Linked DNA regions of Homo sapiens: region 1 is linked to region 2. The links come from fine-mapping of genetic effects on gene expression. A gene starts in region 2. The other region holds a variant in brackets. All regions are shown on one strand. Distances are from middle to middle.

The links. PIP is the estimated chance that this variant, and not a neighbour inherited with it, causes the effect.
Region 1: its variant is the best candidate, but not a certain one, in a credible set for the expression of MACO1 in lung (TOPMed, PIP 0.54).

The regions. Positions count from the first base shown.
Region 1 is chr1:25,912,910-25,917,300 of GRCh38, forward strand. No RefSeq gene overlaps it. Among named protein-coding and RNA genes, the nearest start is that of MIR3917, 8.7 kb to the left of the region's middle. The variant G/T (reference allele first, on the strand shown) is at 2,341.
Region 2 is chr1:25,429,124-25,433,470 of GRCh38, forward strand. It overlaps MACO1 (macoilin 1), which reads left to right and starts at 1,774. Exons shown (of 11, transcript NM_018202.6): 1 at 1,774-2,055. The coding sequence starts at 1,976. It also overlaps a transcript of RHCE not described here. RefSeq lists silencers at 800-1,239, 1,630-2,289.

The DNA.
Region 1 (4,391 bases), 480 kb after region 2:
AATAGCATGTTATAATTATTGGCAGCATTTTATCTTTTTTGTTGTTCTTGTTGTTTTGAGACAGGTTCTCACTTTGTCACCCTGGTTGGAGTGCAGTGGTGTGAACATGGCTCACTGCAGCTTCAACCTCTCAGGCTCAAGTGATCCTCCTGCCTCAGCCTTCTGAGTAGCTGGGACAACAGGTATGTGTCACCATGCCTGGCTAATTTTAAATTATTTTTTAGAGATGGGGTCTCACCACTTTGCCCAGGCTGGTCTTGAACTCCTGGTCTTAAGTGATCCTCCTGCCTTGGCCTCCCAAGGTGGTGGGGTTACAGGCATGAGCCAGTCCAGGCACACCTGGCCTAGACTGGAATCTTTTAAATGTTAATAGCTCACATAGAATGCTTACCACACAGCAGCCACTGGTCTAAACACTCCACATGTACTAACTCACTTAATTCTCATGACAGTCTTATGAGGTATTATTAGCTTAATTGCAAAGATGAGGCAATGAAGGTGACCAACTCTCCTGGTTTACCAGGGACTGAAGGGTTTTTCCAGGACTTGAGACTTTTAGTGCTAAAACAGGGAAAGTTCCAGGCAAGCCCAGATGAGTTGGTCATTCTAAATAAAGGAACTGATTCAGAATGCCTTTTTTAGAGGGAAAAATAATAATAAAATAAAGGAAACTGAGGCATGGAAAGATAGTAGCTTTTTAAAGTTTGTTTTTGTTTTTGTTTTTGTTTTTGTTTTAGACAGAGTTTCGCTCTTGTTGGTCAGGCTGGAGTGCAATGGCGCAATCTCGGCTCACCGCAACCTCCACCTTCCGGGTTCAAGCGATTCTCCTGCCTCAGCCTCCCGAGTAGCTGGGATTACAGGCATGCACCACCATGCCCGGCTAATTTTGTATTTTTAATAGAGACGTTTCTCCATGTTGGTTTCTCTATGTTGGTCAGGCTGGTCTCGAACTCCTGACCTTAGGTGATCCACCTGCCTCGGCCTCCCAAAGTGCTGGGATTACAGGCATAAGCCACCGTACCCGGCCCCTTTTTTAGATATGTCAGATGGGGTCCTTGTCCTAGGCCCTACTCTTTAGAGGGCTGCACCCTAATCCTCCTCCAGCTGTGTCCCTCCTCACAGTTCCCTGGGTCCAAAGAGATATGCCCGCCTGGAGCCTGTGCACCCCTTCTAGACCACCCTCTCAATACCCAGGACTCCAGAATTCCCTGCCAAAATGGCCCAAGTCCATTTTCAGCATCTGTGCCAACCCTTTCCCTGGTTCCATCCTCCCAAGGGCAAACTTCCTGCCAGTGAGTGCACCCCTGTGCTTAGAGCTGGCTGTTTGCAAGGGGTGTGAACAGAGGCTGAGCATGTGGGCTGGGGAATGCACACAGGAATGAGAAGAGAAGGGAGCTGGCTCTGCTACATTCTCACATGGAACTCCAGGGAATCCAAGAATTCTCAACTCAAAACCTGGCTTTCTAGGTTGTTATGGAGGTATATTTGTCAAGGTAGGAGGATAGAACATATATTTTTAAAAAATAGTTTGTTAGCTTGATTTATAACTCTTAAATACTTAGCCATATGGTATGTGGGCTTCCCTTCTATACTCCTGCCCTGGGTCTGGCAAACATTAGCAGCAGGTTTGCAGCAAGCTTAGATCACTTGTTCAACTAGGCCACACAGAAGCGGCAGAGCTTTTGTAGTCTGGCCCTGACTCTATGCTTTCAGCTATCACTCTAAACTGTTTTATCAGGCTACCCCTGTTATTTTACAAATAGGGGAGAAAAGACCAGAGAACTCTAGACATTTGCCCAATGTCACATGGCTAGTTCGTGTCATGTCAGGGGGAATTTGAATCCTGTCCTTTATATGATGCAGCAGGTACTGCTCAGTTACTATTTGTATGAGTGTGGGCACGTGACTTCCCCTTTTGGGGCCTGTGTTCCATCATCTGTGAAATGGGAAGAACACCCCTACCTCATAGAGCTGCCAGGACTAAATAAAATAATATATGTAAAGTCCCTAGCATTGTGTCTATACACAATAAACCCTCAGTAAGTGACAGCTAAGGTATTAGCTATCAAGGACAGCTCTGATCATGCCATTTTCTGCTTGAAAACATTCGACAAATTCAACTTTGGGACACATGATATGAGAAAAGCAAAAATTTCTGAAACCTAAAAAAAAAAAAAAAAAGACTCCCTTTCTTGGCTTAGAGGCCAAGGATTCCTGGCACAGCAGCTATAACCCTCCGTGAAGTCATTGCAGGTCTTTATCTCCATGAGGACCTCCAGGTCAGTCTTCCTCAAGGACCTCCCCCTCCTTTTCCCTGAGATTCTTTAATTCTTGATGCAT[G/T]TGAAAATCTGTCTTCTTGGGCCGGTGGCAGTGGCTCACGCCTGTAATCTCAGCACTTTGGGAGGCCGAGGCGGGCGGATCACGAGGTCAGGAGATCGAGACCATCCTGGCTAACACGGTGAAACCCCATCTCTACTAAAAATACAAAAAATTAGCCAGGTGTGGGGGCGGGCGCCCATAGTCCCAGCTACTCAGGAGGCTGAGGCAGGAGAATGGCATGAACCCGGGAGGCAGAGCTTGCAGTGAGCCGAGATCACGCCACTGCACTCCAGCCTGGGTGACAGAGCAAGACTCTGTCTAAAAAAAAAAAAAGAAAATCTGTCTTCTCGGATGGATCGTTATAGAGAAGCACAACTAAGATGAACGGAAGAGCTCTGTGATCACTGGACTTAGCCAACAATAGAATGGACTGGGACCTATTCATGAATGAGATTCTTGTTATGGGACATGTGCCGACAAAGTCAAACATCAGAAATGTTGAATCGGGATTCTTGCATTAGAAGAGAGGTGGACTAAATGACCTCTCTTCCTGCTTTAAGGTCCTTTTTTAATGAGATGGGGAAAGGCTCATTATATTGCGCTAAATAGAACAAACAAAGCCTACCCAATTGCACAATATGAGTTCGACTAGGAACAAAATACATTGAAGAAAATGCACCAAAATAATAGTTCTGGAAAGAAAATAACAATTGAGTTTGCTTTCCTTCTTTATACTATTCTGGATTTTCCAAACTTCTTAAAATGAACTTGTATTACTTGTATTAATGACAAAAATTATATATATATTTTTTCTTTCTGAGGCAGAGTTTTGCTCTTGTTGCCCAAGCTAGAGTGCAATGGCATGATCTCGGCTCACTGCAACTTCTGCCTCCCAGGTTCAAGCCATTCTCCTGCCTCAGCCTCCGAAGTAGCTGGGATCACAGGTGCACGCCATTACGCCCAGCTAATTTTTTGTATTTTTAGTAGAAACGGGGTCTCACCATGTTGAACAGGCTGGTCTCAAACTCCTGACCTCAGGTGATCTGCTGGCCTCGGCCTCCCAAAGTGCTGGGATTACAGGCGTGAGCCGCTGTGCCTTGCCCCAACAATTATATTTAAAAAATAGAAGAGACTTTTGTCCTCCTTGCCCATCTTATGTCCTGTGTCTCTGAAACCTCTATATTCACTCTCACTCCTTCCACTCCCCCACCAAGTTTCAGCTTTATTGGACTGTTGGCAGCTCTCTGAAAGGTTACATGCCTATATGTCCCATTGTTTTGCTGACACCAACTGCCTTAGTTCAGGCTGTTGTAACAGAACAACATTGACTGGGTGGCTTAACCAACAAACATTTATAACTCACAGTCCTGGAGGCTGGGAAGTCCAAGTTCAAGGTGCCAGCAGATCTGATGGCTGGTGAGGGCTCTTTTCCTGGTTTGCAGAAAGACATCTTCTTGTTGAGATGGCTGAGAGCACAAAGAGATTCCGTGTCTCCTCTTTTTATACGGGCACTAATCCCATTCATGAGGGCTCTAGCCTCATGACCTAATTACCTCCCAAAGGCTCTACCTCCAAATACCATTACAGTGGGCCATAGGCTTCAACATATGAATGTGGGAGAGAACACAACATTCAGTCTACAGTACCAGCCCTCATAAGGCCTTGAGTCCCTTGGCTTCTGTCTATATTGAAATTCTCTCCACCTTCAAGGTCTTGACTAACCTCTCTCTCCCTCACCACTATGCTGCTGTTGCAGCTATCCATATACATGTCTGTCCCTCTCACTAGTGAGTAAACTCCTTCAGGGCAGGATCCTATGTGATTCTGTCTTGCCATCCCTGAAGTGCCACAGACACTCTGTGAGTGTTGAATCATTTGGCCAGTGTCTTTTTGGCCACCAAACAACACTTAGGGCTTAAGGTCAGATGGCATATCTGAGTGTATAATCTGCAGTCTAGTCCCTTGCAAATTCAAAAAGACTATTCCAGTGACATCTCTTTCTTTCTTTTTTTTTTTTTTTTGAGATGGAGTCTCGCTTTGTCACCCAAGCTGGAGTGCAGTGGCACCATCTC
Region 2 (4,347 bases):
CCCTGGGGTAGATGTTGATTAAGGGAGGGGTGATTACAGGCCAGAGAGAGTTCTGTGAAACCCAGGACAAAACAAAATGGCATCTACTTCCTGGGAAGTTTTTTTTTTTTTTTTTTTTTTGAGACAAAGTCTCGCTCTCCTGCCTCAGCCTCTCGAGTAGCTGGGACTACAGGTGCCCGCCACCATGCCCAGCTAATTTTTTGTATTTTTAGTAGAGATGGGGTTTCACCATGTTATCCAGGATGGTCTCCGATCTCCTGACCTCGTGATCTACCCGCCTCGGCCTCCCAAAGTGCTGGGATTACAGGCGTGAGCCACCGCGCCCAGCCCTTCCTGGGAAGTTTTAAAAATGCACTGGAAGACTAACTGCCCCATTGTCGTTGAGGGATTACACTGATAAAGCTACTGGATAGGACATTCTGCAATATTTTCAGAAATATTTATAAAAGCTGCATTAAAACATGTAAAAATGCTTATGTTAAAAACAGTATGACTACTATTCTAGTATGACTACTATTCTAGTATGACCACTATTCTATTTAATAGCAATAGTAACATTATCATCCATAGGGGAAAATTGGAAAACAAGCAAATACAATAAAATGTCAACTGTATTTGTGTTAATGTGATGAGACTCATTGGTGTTTTTTCCTTTTCGGCCACTTTCCTACATTTTCCCCAGTTTTCTCTAATGATAAACATTCTTTTTATTTCTCTTAAAAAAAAACACCATGCGGACTTTTCTAAGTGTTACTTTGCCATACGTACGTGGCAGGGGAGTTATAAGGAGTAAATGAGCAAATACACGCAAATTACCCAGCACGGTGCCTGGCATAAAATCGGCGCTCAATGAGTACGAAGCGTGAAGGGTCGCCGGCCCCGCGTCCCCGCCTTGCAGGAGCCCGGACCCGCCGAGCAGGCTCCCGGTCCGGCCCGGCCCGGCCCGGAGGCCGATGCTTCGCGGTAGTGCCCTCGCGGGTCCTGCGGACTCGGCGCCCGCGGGGCCCACAGCGCTGCCCAGCCTGTGGACGTGGAGCCCGGGCCGCACCGCCGCACACGCCCCGGGCATCTCTGCGCTACGTCGCGCGCCCCCACGGCTCCGCCCCGTGGCGTAACCCGGGGCGGGGCCGCCACCTCCGATTGGCCGGCGCGCTGTCACCACGTCGCGGGAAGCTGGCAGGGTGTGTGTCTGTGTGCGTGTGGGGTTTGCTTTGTCATTCGTACCCCCGGTGCGCGCTGACGCGGTCGGCCTGGCCGAGCTCTCCAGCATCCGCAGAAGGGTCCCCGGCGCTGTTCCTGGGATGCTCCCTTACATAATGACGCGACTGGCTGAAGCGCACGTCAGCGCAGACACCGCACATGCCGCAAACCCGGGCCTTCCGATTTCATACATTGCTAGACGAGAGCCTACAATGCCATGCCGTACGGTATGCTCTAGTAGGGATTACAATACAATGAAACGCAACCCAATAATAATAAAGCATACCTTCGCAACAAGGCGTAATATAGGATGTTATATTTATAGGGCCTATTTATAAGCCTCTATTTAAATCTTTTCTGATAGGCTCAGCCGGGGACCCAGACACTATAATGATTGGCGCATTCTTCCGTCCTTCAAAGGGGCGGGTTCTAGAGTCAGTTTTGCCTCAGCGGGCCCTGGGATTGGCCGACAGCGGTTTACCGGTGGCTTCTATTGGCCTCCCGGGCCGTCCGTCGGAGCCGAGGAGGCGGGGCAGGCGGCTGGCTGGTGCTGGGCGGGCGGGCCCCGGAATTGTCATTTCTTTGTTTCCGAAGGCGGAGGAGGCTCCGAGCCCCCCCTCCCCGTGCTACCCCCTCCCCCCGGGTGCTGGCTCCATGTCTGTGTGACCGGCCTCAGGGGTAGAGTCCAGGCCCGACGCGGGGCGGGCCAGCGGCGGCGGCAGCTGAGGTGAGAGACGGCGGCGGCGGCGCGGGCACCCGGCCCCCCAGCGGGAGGATGAAGCGGCGGAACGCCGACTGCAGTAAGCTCCGCCGCCCCCTAAAGCGGAACCGGATCACCGAGGGCATTTACGGCAGGTGAGCGGCTGCACCCCCACTCCGCGGGCGCGGGCCCTGCGGTCCCCCTCCAGCTCCGAGGGGCCTGGCCCCGTTATGTAACCCCGAGTAGGCCGCACGCCCGCGCCGGGGGCTCTCCTAAGGAGCGCTGGCCCCGGAGCCGCTGGCCCGCCCGCCGGGGTCCGCCCCGGGTGCGCGGGGCGTGGCGAGGGTCGGCCCGGCCGGGCGGGCAGGGCGCGGCGGGCGCTGGCTGAGGGAGCCGCCGCGCCGCCGTTGGAAGCGCCGGGCCCGCCGGGGGGAGGGGCGGAGAGCCCCCAACCAGCCCGGCGTTCCTCAGCATCCCGGCCATGCCGCTGGGCCGGGAGGGCCGCTTCCGGGACCTCTGACTGGCCGCCGCTGGCCCCCGAGCCCCCCGGTGGCCTGGGGGCTTGCCGGCCGGAGCCAGGAGGCGCGTGGACCACAGCGCGGGGGGGTGGGGGAGGCTGACAAAGTTGAGAGCCCACTGTGGCCCCTCGTTCCCCCAAGCTGCCAGCATACTGGCCTGGGGCCATGCTGTCACTTCTTTCACCTTCTGCTTCCCATATGGGATCTCAAACTTGGCACCCAGGGCTGAAGCTGATACCCCCAAATCATGCCCTGTGGCCCTGCTCCAGATTCGGAAGGGTCTGATGACCAGTTTTTCAGCAAATATTGTTTTGACAATTCCAAGCAGATAGCTTGCTTTGAACGTTTTTAAAAAGGGATTTTCTCCAAACTCTTTTTTTTTTTTTTCATCCGCAAGAAAAGCAGTGTCCCTTTAAATAGAAATTGAATTCAGTCCACCGGTAGAGAAAGACAACAGGTTCATGGGGCAACTTACTATCATAGCTTCCCCAAGTCGATTTGTGTACGACTGTTATTTTCTGGTTCTTCTCAGAATGTTACTTGTAAATGGTATTTGCCTTGATACAGATTTCGGTGGAGAAGTAATTAGTTTACAAAGAAGAATTCTCAGCATGTGGATGTAGGCTTAATTGAGTCCTCATGGTGTTTTACAATTAGCTTCTCTAGCTGTGGGATTTCAAGAAATATGTGAGGTAGCTGATGACACCCAAGTTGTCTTAACATAACTGTACACCTTGCACATGCTCTTGTTTACAGATGTGGAATGATTGCTTTCCACAAGCAGCTGACTGATGTAAACACTGGGGATTTTCTTCAAGTTTAAAAGCATTAAGGAATCAAAGTAAAAATTTCTTGGGTATATTCTTATAAAATGAGCCATAGAGCATAGGAGTAATTCATTCATTCATCAGTTATATATACTATGTGCCAGGAACATTTCTAATCAGTGAAGATAGAGCAGTGAGTAAAACAGACTCTAATCTATGCTGGATGAATCGAACTTGACCATTTTAACTTGAACTGTGAAAGCAAACAATTTTTTCTACACATAGATGGAGGAAAGGTCTCTTCAATTCACGTTACATACACTATACATTCTTGAATTAAAGAAAGTTTTTCCCCTTTGGCTATTGAAAAATATTTGACCAACTTAACATTAATGGTAACATAAAAATAGGAAAGGGATATTAAACCGAGTTGGTAGACTTAGCACAACTGTGGCATTTGAATAGCTGCTATTTACAGTAACATAAGATGATGTACCTCCATTTATAGCAAGAAGATTGAGAGTCCCATATTGTTTACGTGTTTTCTGCTGTATTTCCATTTCTCTGTACTTGAACAAATAGACCCAGTTTACAACCTGCGCCATAATAGCTACTCAGTGTGAATCGATGTGAAGAAGTGAATTCATCGTTTAATGAAGATTTATCATCTTACTGATGGCTTTTGAAATTTGAATTTTCTTACCCTAAAGGTTAATTGTAAATACTCTTTGCAAGTTATTCAGAGGTTCATCTGCAAAATTTTAAAAACCGACAGTGCATTAGCCTTAAATCTTCTTATGCTTCTCTGTTTTGCATTCTTTAAGTTAAATGTTAATAAAAGACCTAAATGTATTTCTAACTGTCTTTCCTGGTTGGAGTATCATATATCAAATGAGCGTTTCAACTCACTTATCTGTTTCTTGGTTTATATTATGGAGTATTGGACTGAAGAACAAGATTTTTTTTTTTTTGCCCAATTCTGTTTTTAAAGAGATTTAGAAAAATTTCCTGTTATTTCTAAAGCAAACAGGATGAGTGGACTGGTTATAAACTAGAATGCTTGAGGATTCATGAATATCAAATTTCTGGTGATCATCAAATTTAAGTCTATGCTAAGTTGTTTTTCACACCATCTATTGCCCATTTTGTTTCTCAACAACAT